3 separate regions of the Homo sapiens genome follow, and all the other regions are linked to region 2. The links come from fine-mapping of genetic effects on gene expression. A gene starts in region 2. Each other region holds a variant in brackets. All regions are shown on one strand. Distances are from middle to middle. Region 1 has its middle 37 kb from the start of BDH1. Region 2 holds the start of BDH1 (3-hydroxybutyrate dehydrogenase 1). Region 3 overlaps BDH1 (3-hydroxybutyrate dehydrogenase 1).

Region 1 (6,236 bases), 37 kb after region 2:
CACTGAAATTTCTCAGACACATCTTGTAACAGCCTCTAGCCTCCATCAACACCAGCAACCAGAAGCGTCTCACTGTGCAGGCGTTGCGCCAGGCACTGGGCTACCCAACCACAATCAGAGTTGCCTTTCCAGGCCCATGGAATTTTGTTCAGCCAGTGGCTGCCAGTTAGTTCTCTGTCTTTGTTTCCAAGGTAGCAGGAACCCTACAGAAACCAGGAGAAAATATGTCACACCCCTAAATGTGTTTTCTTCACAGATTTCCCTAGAAGGCTGCCAGCCTGGGCAGTGGGTGAGAAGCCGCTCTGCTGGGTTACACATGGCAGGCCCAGCGCCCTGCAGGCTCAGGGAGGAGCTCTGCCCTGACCCAGCCGAATCTCACCCATGCAGGTGGTGGATCAGAGGACTTTCTGTGACTAGGAAAACAACTCAAAGGTCAGCCCTTCCCAGCAGTGAGTAAACACCCACATCCCCAGTTCTGAGAGAGGCCTGCAGAGGTGGCCTCTTCCCTAGTGAGAAGTCCTCCATGGCTAGTTATGGATTATTGGTCTGGGGGCTTCTGGACTTCAAAGACCAGCTGGATTAATCTCTGTATCCCGGTGCTTGGCACAGTGCCTGGCACATGGGTGATGTTTGCTGAATTGCCATCAGGGCCTGTCTCTTCTCCTGCCACTTTCCACACCTCTGCAAAGAGGTAACTGCTCTTGGGCTGATTCCCTGGAGTTTGAACCTCACCTCTCTGAAGGGGGCATCCTTTTGCAGGATGTGCACTGTACATCCAGGAAAACACACCAGATGAGGAGCTCCTGATGACTGGTTCACACTAATTTTGAGAACTTATCTCAGAAAATTTAGAAAATGAAGATGTCTAATAAAATACAATAAAAATTCTATTCCCCCTCCCCTTCCTGCTCTAACAGAACTGTTATGCTCCCCTGCAGCCATCTCAGGTGGGGAAAGTTTTTTGTTTGTTTGTTTATTTGTTTGTTTTTGAGACAGAGTCTCACTCTGCAGCCCAGGCTGGAGTGCAATGGCACAATCTCGGCTCACTGCAACCTCCCCCTCCCAGGTTCAAGGGATTCTCCTGCCTCAGCCTCCGGAGTAGCTGGGATTACAGGTGTGAGCCACCACGCCTGGCTAATTTTTGTGTTTTTAGTAGAGATGGAGTTTCACCATATTGGCCGGGCTGGTCTCAAACTCCCAACGTTGTGATCCGCCCGCCTCAGCCTCCCAGAGTGCTGGGATTACAGGCATGAGCCACCACACCCGGCCCTGAATGCTTTATCTCCTGGAGTAAATGTCCTCTTTGCTGACGACGGCCTCTTCCAGGCCATTCTGCCACTCGTGTGTCAGACTTTAGGCAGGATTTCATTGATGGACTGACCTCCATAGCCCCTCAGTCTAACAAGGAGACAACAATGGTGCTTTGGGTCTCCAGGTATCAGTTTCAACTCAGTCACTACATCAAGTAGCCCTCCGGACATCTGGGGATTCCTTTTTCTTCCGTGTACGGTCACCCAAGTACACGGCCACGGGTCCCCCTAGGGAAAGACTGGGGGAATCATTACACTCTTTTCTTGCCGGTGTTGCCGAGTTCATTCTTAGAGACCCAGCCACCTCTTCAGTCCATGGATTCCAGATCGGAAAATTGGCTTAGGTCAAAACAACTGAGTAAGGGACTGTAAGTTTGTATTAGGGCTCTGAGCCTCCTGCGTCTCCACTTGTGCCTCTTGCTGGCTGGAGGCGTTAGGCAGCACCTGTGTAGGTTGCCCATTTATTCTGCCCCGGGAGATGCTGTGCTCTGTGGACCACAACTCCCTGTGGGCCGGGCCTGGTTGGCTGCATGACTAACTCTGCAGGTCATTATGACCTCCTGGCATCTGGAAGCCAAAGGCCACCACCTGGCCTCTATGCCTGGGGGTAGAGGGGCTTCATTGCCATGGGTAGCAGTGAGCCCAGCTCTGTGACCAGCTCTCCTGTTTAGTGAGGTTGGTGCCTCTCACCTGAGCATTCCTGATGGTCGTGGTCAATCACCTGTTCTCTGGGCCCACCCCTCATACTTACCCCCACCCCCGGTGGCTCTTCTGGTCTCAGATGACATAGCCATCCCAGCGTGCCCACTTTCCTCAGGCTTTTTGTGTTTTCACTACCATCTTCCAGGGCTACTTAGTCATGTCCGTTGCCGCCATTGACACTGGCTGCCACTTTCTCCGGGCTTCTAAGAGTCACCCTTGAGTTTGTCTCATCACCTGGGGTCCTTACCAGGGTATTAAATTCGGCATCCTGAGAAAGCACCCCAAGGGAACTCTGCTAGGCCCAGGCTCCTTGATCAAGCCCCCAGGAGTGAGCAACCAGCGGCGTGTGCTGAGGAAGCCACGGCCTGCTTGCTAACCTCCCACCTCGTGCGTGCGCTGCCTCCTCACTTCCTTCGTCCTTTACTCTTACTTTCCTGGAACTCACTTCCTTTCGTCCTTTACTCTTACTTTCCTGGAACTCACTTCCTTTCGTCCTTTACTCTTACTTTCCTGGAACTCAGCCCCGCTGCCCAGAAGCACACAAGCTTTGCCTCAGGCTCTGTTTTCTAGGGAAATTGGGCCAAGGCAGAGGTCTTCATGATTTCACATGTTGTAAGAAGGGGGGAGGCTCTCATCCTGGCCCTGGAAGTGGGGGGTGCTCATAGTGAGTCCATCTAGCTAGGGATGAAAACGGAAAACTCAACGTCTATGGAAAAACACAAGGATTTGGAAGCGTCACATAAAGACTTAATCAATACAAGTTCAAACTATAATCCCTCCCTGAAATGACACAGCATTTTTCCACTGGAAGCAGCTGGGGGGCTGGTGCTGGGCTGCCGTATCTCCAGGCAGCAGAGGGCAGGGAAGGAGAAGGGCAAGAGCTCGTACCTCGGGTGTCCTTGGCTCACCGCCTGTGCTCCATTTCTGCATCTCTCGTGGTCCGTAATACTCCAGATCCTGCCACGAACAGGGGCGAGGGGAAGAGGAACTGGGCTCAGAATTGTTAAGAAAGACTTGATTTAGGAGAGCTGTGTCTCCGCACGGAGGTGGGATTGCTCATTAGGCAGAAGCTGGTGACCACCACACCAGGTGCCTTAAGATTTCAAAATCACAGGCCAGGCATGGTGGCTCACACCTGTGATCCCAGCACTTTGAGAGGCCAAGGTGGGTGGATGACCTGAGGTCAGGAGTTTGAGACCAGCCTGGCCAACATGGTGAAACCCTGTCTCTACTAAAAATACAAAAATTAGCCGGGAGTGGTGGCAGGCGCCTGTAATCCCAGCTACTTGGGGGAGGCTGAGGCAGGAGAATCGCTTGAACCCAGGAGGCAGAGGTTGCAGTGAGCCGAGATGGTGCCACTGCACTCCAGCCTGGGTGGCAGAGCGAGACTCTGTCTCAAAC[A/AAAAC]AAACAAACAAACAAACAAATCACAGGTGTATGGAGGATGCACCTGACAGCAATAACTTAAGCATACCCTGAGAATGACCCTAGGCCTAAAAAGAATGTGTTTGGAGTTCTGAGCTAAGGAATCGGGAAATGGGGCCAACCTGGAGACTCATTCCTTATCTGCGAGGGGCATCTGAACCCCCCGCCCATCCTGTGGAATGGAGGCCATAGAGGGGATCCAGGCCCTTTGTTTTGGGTTAAAGGAAGGTTGCCAGGTGGAGGTTGCTAGGGGGAGGGTGCTAGGTGAAAATGCTATATAAACTGCATGCTTTTTACGAGTGGTTGCCATTCTCTGGTCCAGCCTGCTGCCACTGGACTGCCCTGTATGTAAGTCCCCTCAGGAAGCCCTGTGTCTCAGTCACTGGCCCCCAGCCTCTTCTTTGGCGTCTCGAACACACTACCAACGCTACTGCAGTCAACAGGGGTCTGGCACGACAGCAGGGCTTGCTTTTTTTGCTGTTATCGTTGTTGTTGTTGTTTTTGAGATGGAGTTTTGCTCTTTTCACCCAGGCTGGAGTGCAGTGGCGCGATCTCAGCTCACTGGAACCTCCACCTCCCAGGTTTGAGTGATTCTCCGGCCTCAGCCTTCCAAGTAGCTGGGACTACAGGCACACACCACCACGCCCAACTAATTTTTTTTTTTTTTTTTTGTATTTTTAGTAGAGACGGGGTTTCATCATGTTGGCCAGGCTGGTCTTGAACTCCTGACCTCAGGTGATCCACCCACCGGCCTCCCAAAGTGCTGGGATCACAGGCACGAGCTACTGCACCTGGCCCCAGGCTTGCTTTTACACAAGTTCAACCCCAGACACCTTCCAAGAATGGCTTCGTAGTCAGCAAGAGAGGAGGCACCCTATAGCACTCAGCTAGAGACAATATCACACCATATCCAGCAGGAGAGAGAAAGGTCGATCTTATGCCATAGGCTGACAAACTTTAAAACAGCTGTGTAGAAGGGCCCTGGTGACATAGGTTTGAAAGGGGTCGCTGCATTTGTCCAGTACAACATTTAAAGTCTGTTCTACTGTTGAGACTGATTTTCTTTCCTTACTGTCTGGAGCATCGTCTTATTCACAGGCCCGTTTATTCATCATGCGGAAACAGATGACCAGGGAATTCAAATCTAAATGATAGGTCTATCTCTGTATCTCAGTATTGAATAATAAAACCAATGATTTCTTCAGGGATTCCAAATCAGTGTTTGATAAAGATACAGGACCCGAGGGGAAAGAAGGGATCCGGAGCAAAAGAAGTTCAGATTAAATTTTCACTTAGCGTAAGATGCCCCTGACTCTATATCATGGTCCTCAAAGGTCAAAAGAGTAAAGAAAACACAAACTAGGACAAATGAGAAGGGGCCTATCCCCTAATGCCCGGTTATCCAGAGAGAAGGCAGGAAAACAACAGCTGCTGGAGAAAGTGAATGATGGTTCTCAGCCCTGGCTGCAAGTTAGAACCGCCAGGGAACTGTCAAAAATGCTAATCCAGACCGGGCGCGGTGGCTCACACCTGTAATCCCAGCACTTTGGGAGGTCGAGGAGGGCGGATCATGAGGTCAGGAGTTCGAGACCATCCTGGCCAACTCGGTGAAACCCTGTCTCTACTAAAAATACAAAAAATTAGCCGGGCGTGGTGGCGGGCGCCTGTAATCCCAGCTACTTGGGAGGTTGAGGCAGGAGAATCGCTTGAACCTGGGAGGTGGAGGTTGCAGTGAGCTGAGATCACACCACTGTACTCCAGCCTGGCAACAGAGCGAGACTCCGTCTCAAAAAAAAAAAAAAAAAAGCTAATGCTTGGGTGCCACTCCCAGAGATTCTCATTTAATGGGTCCAGGGTTTGGCCTGGTCGTCAGAAATCTTACACCTCCCCAGGTGATTCTAAAGTGCAGCTCCAGCACTGTTTTGGAGGTAGACCACTTCTGTTCCTGACGCTCTCTTGTCTCCATCTGTCACTCTCCCTCCTATTCTCCCTCCCTATGGGCCGCAACAGCTTGCTCCAGAGCTCGGATGCACGACTGACCCATTTGGGGAGTGAAGTGAGCTCTTCCCGCTGTGCCCTCCTGTCTACCGGTGCAGGAACTCCTTCCACTTCCTCCCTGTGATGTGAGTAGAATGAATTCCAACTCTCCTGGCAGCAAGTTGCATACAAAATAAAGCTTGAGGGAGAGCACTTTGAGTAGTCCCGAAAGTTCCCTCGTGGAAGAAAGACAGCAGCAGAAGAGGGCAGTGTGAGGGGCACACAGCCAGAATTCCATTCATTTCCTTTAGAGTCTATATCTAGCCAAAGAAAAGCCCTCACAGGGGAGAATCAAGGGTTCTTTTCCCCATTGACAACTCTGTGCCCACAACGCTGGTCTGTTGCAATGGTAGGGTGAGCAAGTAAAACTCGTAAAAATTTTTCAAAATTCTTTGAAAAGTGAATCAGTATTCTATCGGGCTCAGACAAACTATTTCTGCTGAGACCCATCTGGAAATGTGAAAACCTCTTTGTAGAAGGAAATTGCAGTTGATCTGAGTATTTTCTACAGAATTCTACATTCTGGACTTCCTAGAGACCTAATTGTCCTTAAAAAAAAAAGAAATGGGATTTTTTTAGTTTATTCTAATTGGAAATCAGCGACAGACATCAGAGGCAGAAGAGATAGCTGTTTTTTCTTTAAAACAAAACTAAATTGGGCCATCAGATTGCAATGGTAAAGTGCTTTTGAACCTGCCACATATGAAGTGCTTGGTAAAGGCAGTTTTTATTATCCAGAAGTGGTATTGGCTAGGCAAACCATTAAAC
Region 2 (6,236 bases):
GACCATCCTGGCCAACATGGTGAAACCCCGTCTCTACTAAAAATACAAAAATTAGCTGGGTGTGGTCGCTCGCGCCTGTAGTCCCAGCTACTTGGGAGGCTGAGGCAGGAGAATTACTTGAACCCAGGAGGTGGAGATTGCAGTGAGCCGAGATCACGCCACTGCACTCCAGCCTGGCAACAGAGCAAGACTCTGTCTCAAAAAAAAAAAAAAAAAAAGAAGAGTTTTAAGAAGAGGAGTGCCATTATCAGACTTACATTTTTAAAAAGGTAACTCTCACTGGGTTAATAAGTTGAGGATGGACTAGAGCAGAAGCAGGGAGACCCATTAGGATCTGTGGCAGTAATCCAGGGCCACCATGTGCAGTCATGAGGGTTGTATATTGCACCACTGCAGTGAGATGTGAAAACGTGTTCCTTAGAAATGTACACCAGCCTTGGTGAAAACCATGGAACTGATTAGAATTGGTAAGTCTGGCTTTATATTGAAGGTAGAGTCCGCTACCATTTACCAACAGATTGAGTGTAGGATATGAAAGAAGGAAGAATCAAAGCCATTTCCAAGATGTTTGGTCTAGGTGTAACAAATGACAGTAGTGCAAATGATTAAGCAGCCTTTCTATTCACAAGTGCTTACTGCATTTCAAACCCGAGGACACAAGCTGAGCCCCCGAGTCCTCACCTGGCTCCTCCAAACCGTATCTCCAACTATACTTTTCTCCTCTACTCATTCAACCGTTTGCTACACCATCCCTCAACAAGCCCTGTACTTTCCAATTTTCGAGCCTTGCTCATCCTATACCAAACTGACTGCATCTGACCAAGTCCTAGCTGGTTCAGATAACTCTCCCGAGCAGCCTTTTCTAATCCCCTAATTCAAAAATCTTTCGCCCAATCTCCTCCCTTCTGTGCCTCTGTAACTGCACCTACCTAGCCAGGGTCGTATTCGAGGGATTTCTGTTTATAAACATTCACAAGCCCCCATCCTACCACCAATCCCCACCCGGACTGTGAGCACCCTACAGACAAGACCCAAATGTTGAATCACTCTCTTCTTGCTCCTCCGAATATTTATTGTGTGACGCCTGACAGGAAGTAGAGGCTCTGTAAATGTGTATTGAGTGAATATGAAAGCTTCACAAATTTCAAGGGTCAGCTTCCTTGGCGGCCAGGGATATATACGCCCTATGCAGAGCCCGGCTCCAACGCCTCTTGTAGAAAGAAGGACACTGACCAGGACATTTGCAGCGTCACAAAAGATCCTGTCAGCGCGAGGCCTGCAGGCGGCCCTCCATAGTGAAATATGTGCTTCTGCAACCCCTCAAAGTAGGAACTGCAGGGTGACTCTGCATCAGCTGACTACAGGCAGATTTCCAGGCTGACTGGCTGGAAAAGAAAAAAAAAAAACGCGGAGTTCGACGCCGCGCGCAGCACCAAACACTTCCCCAGAAGGGCGCAGCCTGGAGGCGGCCGCGCGCAGGACGCACGCCCAAGGCGCCTGGGCCGCTAGGGACCGACCGGAGCGCTCAAACCCACAGGGTATCTATCAGGCGCGCGTCAGCACGTAAGCAGAGCGCGAGAACGCCCGAGACGGCGGCGCAGCCAATCCCAGAGCAGCGCTCCCCAACGGCCGGCCGGAGGGCGGGGAGAGAGGGGGGCTCGGCCAGAGCCACGCTTCCCATTGGTTGAGACAGCACCGCCCAGCCAAAGCCCCCTTGTCCTCGCGCGGGTGCGCCGCCTGGACTCCCACCCTGGCCAGTCCCGGGCCCACCACCACTCTGGCATCCCCAGCCTGTCCCCGCGGCTCCTCCTCCTTCCCCGGCCCTGTGGCCTGCCTGCTGTCCAGCATTCTTCCCCAGGGCGCTGTGGCGCGGAGGGAGGACTCCCCAAACCCCGGGAACAGAGCCTTGCGGAGGACCCCGGAGGAGGAGGAGGAGGAGGGACGCGGACGGGACTGGGAGATTCGGTCGGGAAGGGGACAGGGCCTAGAGCCCGGGGCTAGAAGGCAGGACACCTGGCTTCGGTCTGGGCTCGGCCTTTGACTACGACGTGACCTTGAGGACGGTTCCTTCCCTTCGTGGGGCCTGGGTCCCCTTCAGTAAGATGCGCCGGCAGGAAACGATGAGTCGTTTCACCTGGGAGCTGCAGGGCCGCGTGTTTAACCCAGGGCCTCCTCCTGCCTGGCACATTATTCCGAATAATAAATGCCAGATCATGCTGCTGGAGACGCCGGCAGAAAAGCCGAGAGGGAGACTCCCTGGGGTCTGGGCGCGATCGGCCATCCTACCCTTACCCCGCTGCGGCCGCAGGGCTCGGCCTGTAGGGCGCGAGCCCCCCTTCCCCACCCGTATCCCGGCTTCGGAGCTAAAGGAACACGTGAGGCCGAACCAAACCGAGTAGAGGGCGCCAGGGAATCCCGCCCGAGCTGCAGAGACGCGGACCCCTCCTCTTACCCAAAACCAAATGGGCAGGGGGCTCCGCTGCAGAGGGCTCGCCGAGGCTCTCGCCTTCACCCGGCGCCGCGCAGGTGCCCGCTCTCCTGCGGGGAGAGCCGAGGGGGGGCGCTGCCGCAGGGTCTTTCTGGAAGCCCCTCCACCAGCACTCCTGCGGCCTGCGGCCTCCGCCACCCGGACGCTTCTACACGCGAAGCGCGCGCTGGGGCTACGCTGGGCGGGGCTCACGGCGGCGTGGCTGTCGGGGGGCCGCCGAGCCGCCTCCTCCGCGCTGGGTGCCCGGCTGGCGCTCCTCCCGCCCAAGGTGCCCTGATCGCTAGGCTCCCGGTGCGGCCGTCTCGCCCCTAAGCCGGGCGCCAGATCCCCCGCCGCCTTCTCGCTCCCCGACCGCTGGGCGGGGGCGAGGGCCAGGGAGATGGAGCCAGGTGCGGAAAGGGTTGCAGCCTCGCGGGCTGAGGCCGGAGGGTGAAGGCGCCGCTCCTTGAAGTGAGGAAAACTCCGGTGAGGAAGAGGCTCTTTCCAGGTCCTGTGCGTGTTGCTGTCTTTAGAGCTCATTAGGGTTGGTTGGTTTTTAAATTTCTTTTGATCAGATGAATTTATTTAAAGGCCGGGGGCGGTGGCTCACGCCTGTAATTCCAGCACTTTGGGAGGCTGAGGCAGGTGGATCACTTGGGGTCAGGAGTTCGAGACCAGCCTGGCCAACATGGTGAAAACCAGTCTCTACTAAAAATACAAAAGTTAGCAGGGCGCGGTGGCGCACGCCTGTAATCCCAGCTACTCGGGAGGCTGAGGCAGGAGAATCGCTTGAACCCAGGAGGCGGAGGTTCCAGTGAGCCGAGATTGCACCATTGCACTCTAGCCTGGGCGACAGAGTGCTCCGTCTCACAAAAACAAAAAAATTAAAGATTTGCTTCTCAGGGTCTTTAAAAATAAATTAAGAATAGCAGTTTCCCAGAGTTTTAATAATAGAACAACGGAGGGCCATCGGCCACAGATAAGGGTTTCCTCCCAACCCCACCCCACTGCGCTATCGCCCTGCGCCAGCACACCTCAGTTTCCAGGATGAGAAACAGGCTGAGGAGAGAAGACACCAGGACACATTAGTGGCGAAGCTACGCGAAAGGAAAATAAACCTTGGGGCCCCCAAATCACTAGGCTAAAGGGGAAAGTCAAGCTGGGAACGGCTTAGGGCCAACCTGCCCCCATTCTACTCAAAATCACCCCCTGCTCACTGAGATAAATGCATATCTGATTCCCCCTTTGGAGAGGCTCATCAGAAACTCGAAAGAATGCGACCATTTGTCTCTCATCTACCTATAACCTGGGGGCTCCCTCCTTGCTTCGAGTTGTCCCACCTTTCCAGACTGAGCCAATGTTCATCTTACATATGTTGATTGATGTCTCATGTCTCCCTAAAATGTATAAAACCGAGCTGTGTCCCAACCACCTTAGGCACATGTCAGGACTTCCTGAGGCCATTTCACTTGCGTGCATTCTTAACTTTGGGAAAATAAACTTCCTAAATTGATCTGGCTCAGATTTTGGGGGTTCACAACTATGTTTAGGTAAAGTACAGAGAAGGAATGAATAGAATGAAGAGAATGAATGAAACTTGCAAATACAGGAAGATGAAAACAGGAGGAGGGAAGTACTGGCATGATGAAGATTTAAAGAAAACTGTAGACCGGGTGCGGTGGCTCACGCCTATAATCCCAGCACTGTAGGAGGCTGAGGCGGGTGGATCACTTTAGGCCAGGAGTTTGAGACCAGCCTGGCCAATGTGGTGAAACCCTGCCCTTCGTAGTGGATGCTTGTAATCCCAGCTAGGTGGGAGGCTGAGGCAGAAGAATTGCTTAAGCCTGGGAGGCAGAGGTTGCAGTGAGCTGAGATGGTGCCACTGCATTCCAGCCTGGGCAACAGTGGGAGACTGTCTCAAAAAACAAACAAACAAATAAAACTGTTGGCTCTGTCTGTCCATTCTGTGAGCTTCTGGAGAGCTAAGGCTATCTCCTTTATCCCCAGCTCCTGGCACATACAGCCTTGAAGACTGGGAGAATCAGGAAGGGAGGATGCACTTAGTTTTCTGTTCCCGTTTCACAGATAGACTCAAGCCTGGATTTGCTCCAGTGACGGTGTTTCAGAACATTAGGCATATAGTACCACAGGGTTAAAAATAAATCACTATACTAAAATTACGCCTTGAGGATTATGCTTTGCTAGAAAAGTAGTTAAAGGAAGAATTCTTCTTTACCCCAAGGGAAAAAACATAGATCCTGACTCTGAGAATTAAACTGAATTGTAGTCCTATTTGCATAAGACAGAAAAGGACATTTGACCTTTCTGAGGTTGTATTACACATCTGGCCTTACATCTTCCCAGCCCAGCTTTGCTGTGACAACCAGGTATGAACAGGTGTAACCTGAGAGCACCTTGCCTCAGCTGCACCTGGTATTCTGCGTCTCTGGCACTGCAACCTGGGACCCTTGCAGGAATCCGCTGTCCACTCTGACACATGAGTAAACCTGGAAGTGCAAAGGAACACCTCAAAGGACAAACTTTGACCAAAGGGCAGGCAGGAACTGCAGGAAAAATACTCTGCTCTTCCAGTCTTCCAGTGGGCAATTCTGAGATATGTTCTATGCAGCTCCTAAAATGATAGCATTCTGTTTGCCCATAGTAGTGACCGACTTGATCAACTCACGAATACACCCTTGGATGCCATTCTCTTTCCCTCCTTCCCTATTTGACTCTTCCCAGCCCTCCCCTCCAATTCCTTGGGATTTTGTTATGTAGCTTTAAATGATTCCGAACACTTTCACTTTTCTGTGAGAGTGATATTGTTTTACTGTGATTAGAACATGCAGGGAACTCTCCCTAGCCAAGGGAATGTCATGTCACACCTTATCAGACCCCGCATGGGAGCTACTGACCTCAACCACTGGACTCCAAACACATAGAAACCCAGGATTTTGACAGACGCTTGGAGAGCTTAGGATGTGGCGAGGCCACTCTCTGGAAGCCTTGAAGCTGTTTTTGAAGCCTTGTCTCACAACACTGGCACCGCTCTCTAGCAGCAAGAGACCTCACGTATCTTCATGGATCTCCATTGTATTAGTCAAGCTGTCCCTCCCGAGAACCTCTCCTAGAAAGTAGTGCCTCAAACTCTGATTGGACTTTGCATCCACAAAAGCCTGCTTTCCATCCTAAGTGGGCAATTGAACTTTTTTTTTTTTTTTTTTGAGATGGAATCTCACTCTTGTTACCCAGGCTGGAGTGCAATGGTGCGATCTCGGCTCACTGCAACCTCCGCCTCCAGGGTTCAAGCGATTCTCCTGCCTTAGCCTCCCAAGTAGCTGGGACAGGTGCCCGCCACCACGCCCAGCTAATTTTTGTATTTTTAGTAGAGATGGGGTTTCACCATGTTGGCCAGGGTGGTCTTGAACTCCTGACCTCAGATGATCTGCCCACCTCAGCCTCCCAAAGTGCTGGGATTACAGGCATGAGCCACCATGCTCAGCTTCAACTGAACTTTAATAATTGGACTCTAAATGAAATTGGAACTCATTCATTATGTGATTAATGTACCTTGTCTGTTGAGTGTATCCCCTGTGAGATTTGTTCTCATTATTCTCCCCCTTTTTAAGAATTGTGAAAAAGAAAGACCTCTTTGTATGGCAATAAACTGTGTGATTCATGAACTCATACTTTGATCTTCTCCTTATTTTAACCATACAAAACAGATTCATTCCCCAAATAAACTACCTATACACAAGTCCTTGCTCAG
Region 3 (6,236 bases), 42 kb before region 2:
TCCGGAGAGATAGATTCACCATGTTTGCCCTGAGATTTAGAGGCCTCTGCCTGCCACTCCACACCCTGTTTGTGAAGGCCCAAGTCACTCACTATGCAAAGAAGTCATTCCCTCTAGTTAGTGTTAAAACCAGTTATGGGTCTTCCTGGCATGGTGGATAATCCACACGTGGATAATCAAGAGTTGACTATATGGGTTCCTCCCTCCCCTCCCCTTCCACCAGGGATCCCTGACAGAGGCCACAGCGAGACTCTTCAGCGGATGTAGATCATGTCGGAGATGGCTCCAGGCAAGTGGGTCATGATCTGCATTCGCAGCCACCAGTAGTAGTCCATGGGGTGGTAGCGGGTGTAGGGGGTGGTGGCGGTCAGGGCGTGTGTGACAGCATCGATGACAGGGGACGTGTCTGTGGAGCCACTGCTGCAGTAGGTCTCCATCTTGGCGATCTTTTCATCAAAGTACTTCTTGCCGTAGTCCTTGCGCACGACCTCAGGCAGCTCCTCCCACATCTTCTTGGCGATGGCCTGAATGCTCTCAGGGCTGTAAAGGCTGGTGGCAGCGATGAAGTTGCCGGGCTCCACCACGCTGACCTTCACGCCCAGGGGGTACATCTCATAGCGCAGGCAGTCCGAGAAAGCCTCTACCCCGAACTTGGTGATGCAGTACGGGGAGCGGGCCGGGTTGGCCATGCGGCCCAGCATGCTGCTGATATTGACGACGCGGCCTACAGAGGGAGACAGAGGTACCTGCTAAGCCGTTACTGCCCTATGACACAGCGGGCAGAAGTCTGGCATGTCTCTAGAGGCTTGGCTGGAACCACTTCTGAGCCACCCAGGAGCCTTCTCAGTCAATAGGCAAGGCCAGCTCAGGCCCACGCATCAGCATCGGCACCCCTGGTCTTCCCTGGGAACCTGGCTGTGCCAGGCAGGACAGGGGAGGACAAGTGAGTGAGAAGCAGCAGGGCACAGTGTAATGGGCAACACGCAACTGACTCAAAAACCAGATCAAGCCCGATGCGGTGATAATTTGGGGTGAAAACACGAGGGGAGAAGTGGGAGGCGAGACAGCTGTCTGTGTGGATCTGAGCTTTCACTATAGGCAAGGTCTGGTGCTGGTGAGGGAGAAATACAGCCTGAAAGCTTCCCCTTCCCCTTATGGAGCTTAAAGTCCAGCTCCAGTAGTACGACGTGCAGATAAGTAGCACACTAGGGCCAAGTGTCTAGCCACTGACAGCAGCCCTGGCGATGGGGGTTGGAGTGCAGACGAGGAAGTACCTGGGGCTGCAGCTGGGAGGGAGCCCCGGGACAGCCCTGAAAGAGGACAGGACCCGTGCTGTTAGGCCCAACTCCCCAACTCCATTCCACCCTGGTAGGGTGGAGCCTGGGTGGAGACCAGGACCGCCTGGCAAACAGAGCAGCAGGCAGGGGCAGGGGCAGGATTTCTGAACCTGACTTCAGGGCTAGGATATGAGGAGAGAGTCCTGGGCACTGGGAGAGTGTGGTGATCCCCCTCCAAAGGCCACAGGCCCAGCCTGGGGGCATCAGGGGCCTCCCACAGCTCCTCCTGGCCCTGGGAACAGAGGGGTTGGAAGTGGATTGCATTTGGCCCAGCCCGGGAAGCCGAGGCGGATCTGGGACCAGTTTTCCTGGGAGGGAACTCAGCCCATCCAGGTGTGTCCCGGGGAGGGCACTCAGCCCATCCAGGTGTGTCCCCGGGAGGGCACTCAGCCCATCCAGGTGTGCCCCCGGGAGGGCACTCAGCCCATCCAGGTGTGCCCCCGGGAGGGCCCTCAGCCCATCCAGGTGTGCCCCCGGGAGGGCACTCAGCCCATCCAGGTGTGCCCCCGGGAGGGCACTCAGCCCATCCAGGTGTGTCCCCGGGAGGGCACTCAGCCCATCCAGGTGTGTCCCCGGGAGGGAACTCAGCCCATCCTGGGGGAGGCACCTTTCAGAAAGCTCTAAATTTGAAGTCACTGAAGGGTTGGGGTTTCCATCTAAAATCCTACAGCTGCAGTCTGTGTTCATGCTTGTTGTTGCTAGGACTTCACCATAGATGTATGGATCTTACCCTTTTTGCCACAATTGTTTGCTATGCCAGAGAAAAAAATCCAAGTCAATGACTTCTAAAGTGGTTTGCTCACATTTGGCCACCCACATGGTTTGGGTGTTTTGTTGGTTTTCCAAATTTCTAATCTTGATTTTTACTATTGTTCCCTAATACCACAATGATCTCATTTTTTAAACTACGATATAAATAACCCATAGAATGAATATGCCAGATTTTACTAACCACACCTGACTGATACAAAGATGTGTACACACAGCTTTGTGCAAAGGGTGATTCTCTCTATAGATTAGGTGTGCAGAGTGGATGGCTGCTCAACTCTTTAAGCTTTTGCTGCATGGACCACTGACCTCTTACCTGCTCTGCTTCCTCCTCCCCTACCCGGCCACAGCCCCTCTGCCCACCATCACCCCAGGCCCAGCATAGTCCCTGGGATTCACGAGCTCACCTCTGCTGAGTTGTGGACATTGGAGCTGCTGGGACAGGTATTTCCATTCTGAGCAAAGATGAACACGTGGGGCAGGTTCAGGGGCAGGAGGGAGCTCCCTTTCCCACTCACCTTTGGCCCTTCGGATGAGGGGGAGAAAGGATTTCGTCATCCGCACTGTGCCCCAAAGGTTCACTTCTGCCACCTGCTTGTAGGTCTCCAGGCTGGTGAACTCCACCTCCCCGAACGTTGAGATGCCGGCATTGTTAACGAGGCCCCACATGCCTGGACAGGAGAGGGATAGATGTGCATTTACCACATGGGCTTGGCCCAGACATTGCCCATCAGCCTGCAGGCCAGCCTCCTCTCTGCTTCTTTCCTGTGACTTCCCAGCCTCTCGCCCAGTGCTCTCAAGAAACTTTCTAGAGTCACTCAGGAACGACAGGAGGTAAAGAGGCCTAAAGTGCTGACTGCAGCCCTCCCTTGCGTCTAGAATGTCCAGTCCTCACGTCACATCTGCCTGGCTCGAGTCTCTGGGCCCATCATGACCCAGCCTGCCGTGTCCCCCGGCCTTCAGTCTCACCTCACCTCAAATTCCCACTTCCACTCCACTCCACCCCATCCCATCCCCACACCCTGAGTTTGAGTTTCACGCCCCGTTCCTGTTTACTCATCTCTGCCCTTGAGCTTTTGCTCACGTCTTCTCTTCTCTTGCCAGAAGCCAGGGAAATCACAGGGGAGGTGGGCACGAGGAGGCAGCTGTGTTTTGCAGGGACCTCTCTGAGTTCAGTTTGTTGGGGTGCAAAGGCTGGATGGGTCAGAGCCTCAGGACAGAGCTGGGCCCTGCCTCTTTGTTGTGGAAACCCTCAGTGTT[T/C]GGTCTCCCGGGCCGATAGCCCCGTGCTCCTTCCCAAGGCACAGCCTCAGAGCAGAGCTCCCATCCTGGGGCCCTCCCCTGCCTGTGGGAACTCGGCGCTGCTTTATTTTCCAAGTTAATCATGGAAATGAGTTTGTGTAAATGACAGAGTAATTGGTCTCTAGCTGCTTTCCTTCCGTGTTACCCAAATTAAAGCTTCATTCACTGCCCTCTGGTGCCTTCTCCTTCAATTATGGAGAATTAAGGGCATTTATTAGGGAAAGGAAATTGCTGGTTAACAGAGTGTCCATGAAGAGCTCACTCCCACTCTCCACCAAAGCCTTGCGGGTGTCTCCCTGCTCTAGGTCTCACCTGTGACCTCGCTCAGATGCTAATGACAGGATCAGCGTCATCCACGACCCCACAGCTCCCACTGTCTCCCTGCAGACGCGCCCTGAGTCTTCACCTTCTTCTCTTCCCAGGAGGAGCAGCAGGCCACTCCCCACCCGTCATGGCTGACACTTCCACGTCATCTTCGAGACCATAGCCACTGATCCTTCTCTCTCTTTTACACAATTTCAGCTTTTCCACTGCCCATGACTCCATCCCTTCAGTTCTATACACATTAGGAGCTCAACAAATGTGTGTTAGATGAATGAGTGTCCACAAATACCGCATTTCCATATCCCGAAGATCCTTCTGTAACTGTGCTACCTGCTCTCCCTCCCTCCACGCCAGGCTTCCAAGAACTCTATCCTGTAATACAAAGATTAGCCGGGTGTGGTGGCGGGCACCTGTAGTCCCAGCTACTCGGGAGGCTGAGGCAGGAAAATCTCTTGAACCCAGGAGGCAGAGGTTGCAATGAGCCGGATCATGCCACGGCACTCCAGCCTGGGTGACAGAGCACGCACACACACACACACACACACACGCGCGCGCGCGCGCTCTATCCTCTCCATCTCCCTTCCATACCACACTGGGTCCCAGCCCTCAGCTGTCCTGACCACGCAGTCTCCAGGGTCTCCAGGGTGGTACACCAAGGACCTCACCCCCAGTCTTCACTCTCCTCAGGCTCGCTACGATATGAGTACTGCCAGTACTCCTTGAGGCTCACCTCTCCCTCAGCATTAGTGATACCCAGGCATCTCCTGCATCTTCCCTGACACCTTTCTTTCACCTGCCCCCAGATACAAGTGGCCCCCAATGTCCTGGCCTAATCCTGCTCCTCTCAAAGTACACTTAACTCTTAGGTGTCCTCATCTTCTTCATGTTTGTGAATTTTGCAGCCGTTTTGTGTTTGATTCATAACGGACAATATCCCATGACTTAAAATGCATACAGCCCTTTCTCTACCTAAAAATAAAACAATGACATTTGACGCTACTATCCAAAAAAGTTTAATGAAACATGACCTGTGAAAGTGCACAGCCCCTGGATTACAGCTTTAATGAGTGTTGAGAGTGGTGGACCTAGTTGCCATCTGGAATCCTCAGCCAATGTTCTGAATAAACTCACGGAGGCATGCCCGCTGGTTGGGTGACAGCAACTTTCCTGTAACATCCCCAAGATCGCCTCCGCACCAGTGGCCCCTCAGTTCTCCTTGGGAGTCACGGCTCTCTCTCCTCATCCCATCTCCTGTCTCGCTTCCACCTGAATGTCCCACGGGTCCCTGACTCACCCTAACCACAACCAACACGTCAAGTTTCCAAGCTGCCCAAGCCTGCTCCTCCTCTTTGTTAATGATTTTACTTTTGTCTGTGACTCCTCCAGCTCCTCCACCCCTCCCCCACCTACTGAGTCACCCAGTACTGCTAATATTACAGCTCAAGATCAACATGACAGCTGGCAGACCCCTAATCAAGCCCTTTACATTCATTAACTTCCCTGATCCTCACAACCACCCTGGAAAATAGATCCTAAATTGTCTCATATCCGGTTGAGGCAACTGAAGCTCAGAGAGGTTAAGCACCTTGGTCAATGTCACCCAGCTAACAGGCAGGGAGGGTGGGATTTGGACCCAGATCTCTCTGAGGACAAAGTCCCCACGCCCCAGGCTGTTGCTGGTTTCCTCTGCTGGGTCAGTTCTTCCTTCCTGTTTCCACTAGCATTCCCTTGGGTCCTCGCTGCCTGTCTCCTGGGCTGCTGGAGAAGCCTCCTGGGTCTGTTTGTCTCACTCACTCCTCCACCTCCGTCTTCACCCCACCCCTCAGGCAGACCCATCAGTCACTTCCTGCTCTATGGTCTCCATCCCCCCTCAGGCCGACCCCCGCATCAGTCATTTCCTGCTCTATGGTCTCCATCCCCCCCTCAGGCCGACCCCCGCATCAGTCATTTCCTGCTCTATGGTCTCCATCCCCCCCTCAGGCCGACCCCATCAGTCACTTCCTGCTGTATGTCTCCATCCCCTCCTCAGGCTGACCCCCCCACCCCATCAGTCATTTCCTGCTCTATGGTCTCCATCCCCCCTCAGGCCGACCCCCTCATCAGTCATTTCCTGCTCTATGGTCTCAATCCCCCTTCAGGCCGACCCCCCCATCAGTCACTTCCTGCTCTATGGTCTCCATCCCCCTTCAGGCCGACCCCCCCATCAGTCACTTCCTGCTCTATGGTCTCCATCCCCCCTCAGGCCGACCCCCCCAATCAGTCACTTCCTGCTCTATGGTCTCCATCCCCCTTCAGGCCGACCCCCCCATCAGTCACTTCCTGCTCTATGGTCTCCATCCCCCCTCAGGCCAACCCCCTCATCAGTCATTTCCTGCTCTATGGTCTCCATCCCCCTTCAGGCCGACCCCCCCATCAGTCACTTCCTGCTCTATGGTCTCCATCTCCCCCTCAGGCTGACCCCCCCAATCAGTCACTTCCTGCTCTATGGTCTCCATCTCCCCCTCAGGC

Evidence for each region. PIP is the estimated chance that this variant, and not a neighbour inherited with it, causes the effect.
Region 1: its variant is the best candidate, but not a certain one, in a credible set for the expression of BDH1 in liver (GTEx, PIP 0.71).
Region 3: its variant is the best candidate, but not a certain one, in a credible set for the expression of BDH1 in nasal epithelium (TOPMed, PIP 0.62).

What each region holds. Positions count from the first base shown.
Region 1 is chr3:197,590,191-197,596,426 of GRCh38, forward strand. No RefSeq gene overlaps it. Among named protein-coding and RNA genes, the nearest start is that of BDH1, 37 kb to the left of the region's middle. The variant A/AAAAC (reference allele first, on the strand shown) is at 3,414.
Region 2 is chr3:197,553,329-197,559,564 of GRCh38, forward strand. It overlaps BDH1 (3-hydroxybutyrate dehydrogenase 1), which reads right to left and starts at 2,640. Exons shown (of 8, transcript NM_203314.3): 1 at 2,453-2,640; 2 at 1,234-1,385.
Region 3 is chr3:197,511,641-197,517,876 of GRCh38, forward strand. It overlaps BDH1 (3-hydroxybutyrate dehydrogenase 1), which reads right to left. Exons shown (of 8, transcript NM_203314.3): 7 at 2,624-2,776; 8 at 1-724. The coding sequence ends at 255. Among named protein-coding and RNA genes, the nearest start is that of LINC02012, 5.1 kb to the left of the region's middle. RefSeq lists an enhancer at 112-649. The variant T/C (reference allele first, on the strand shown) is at 3,366.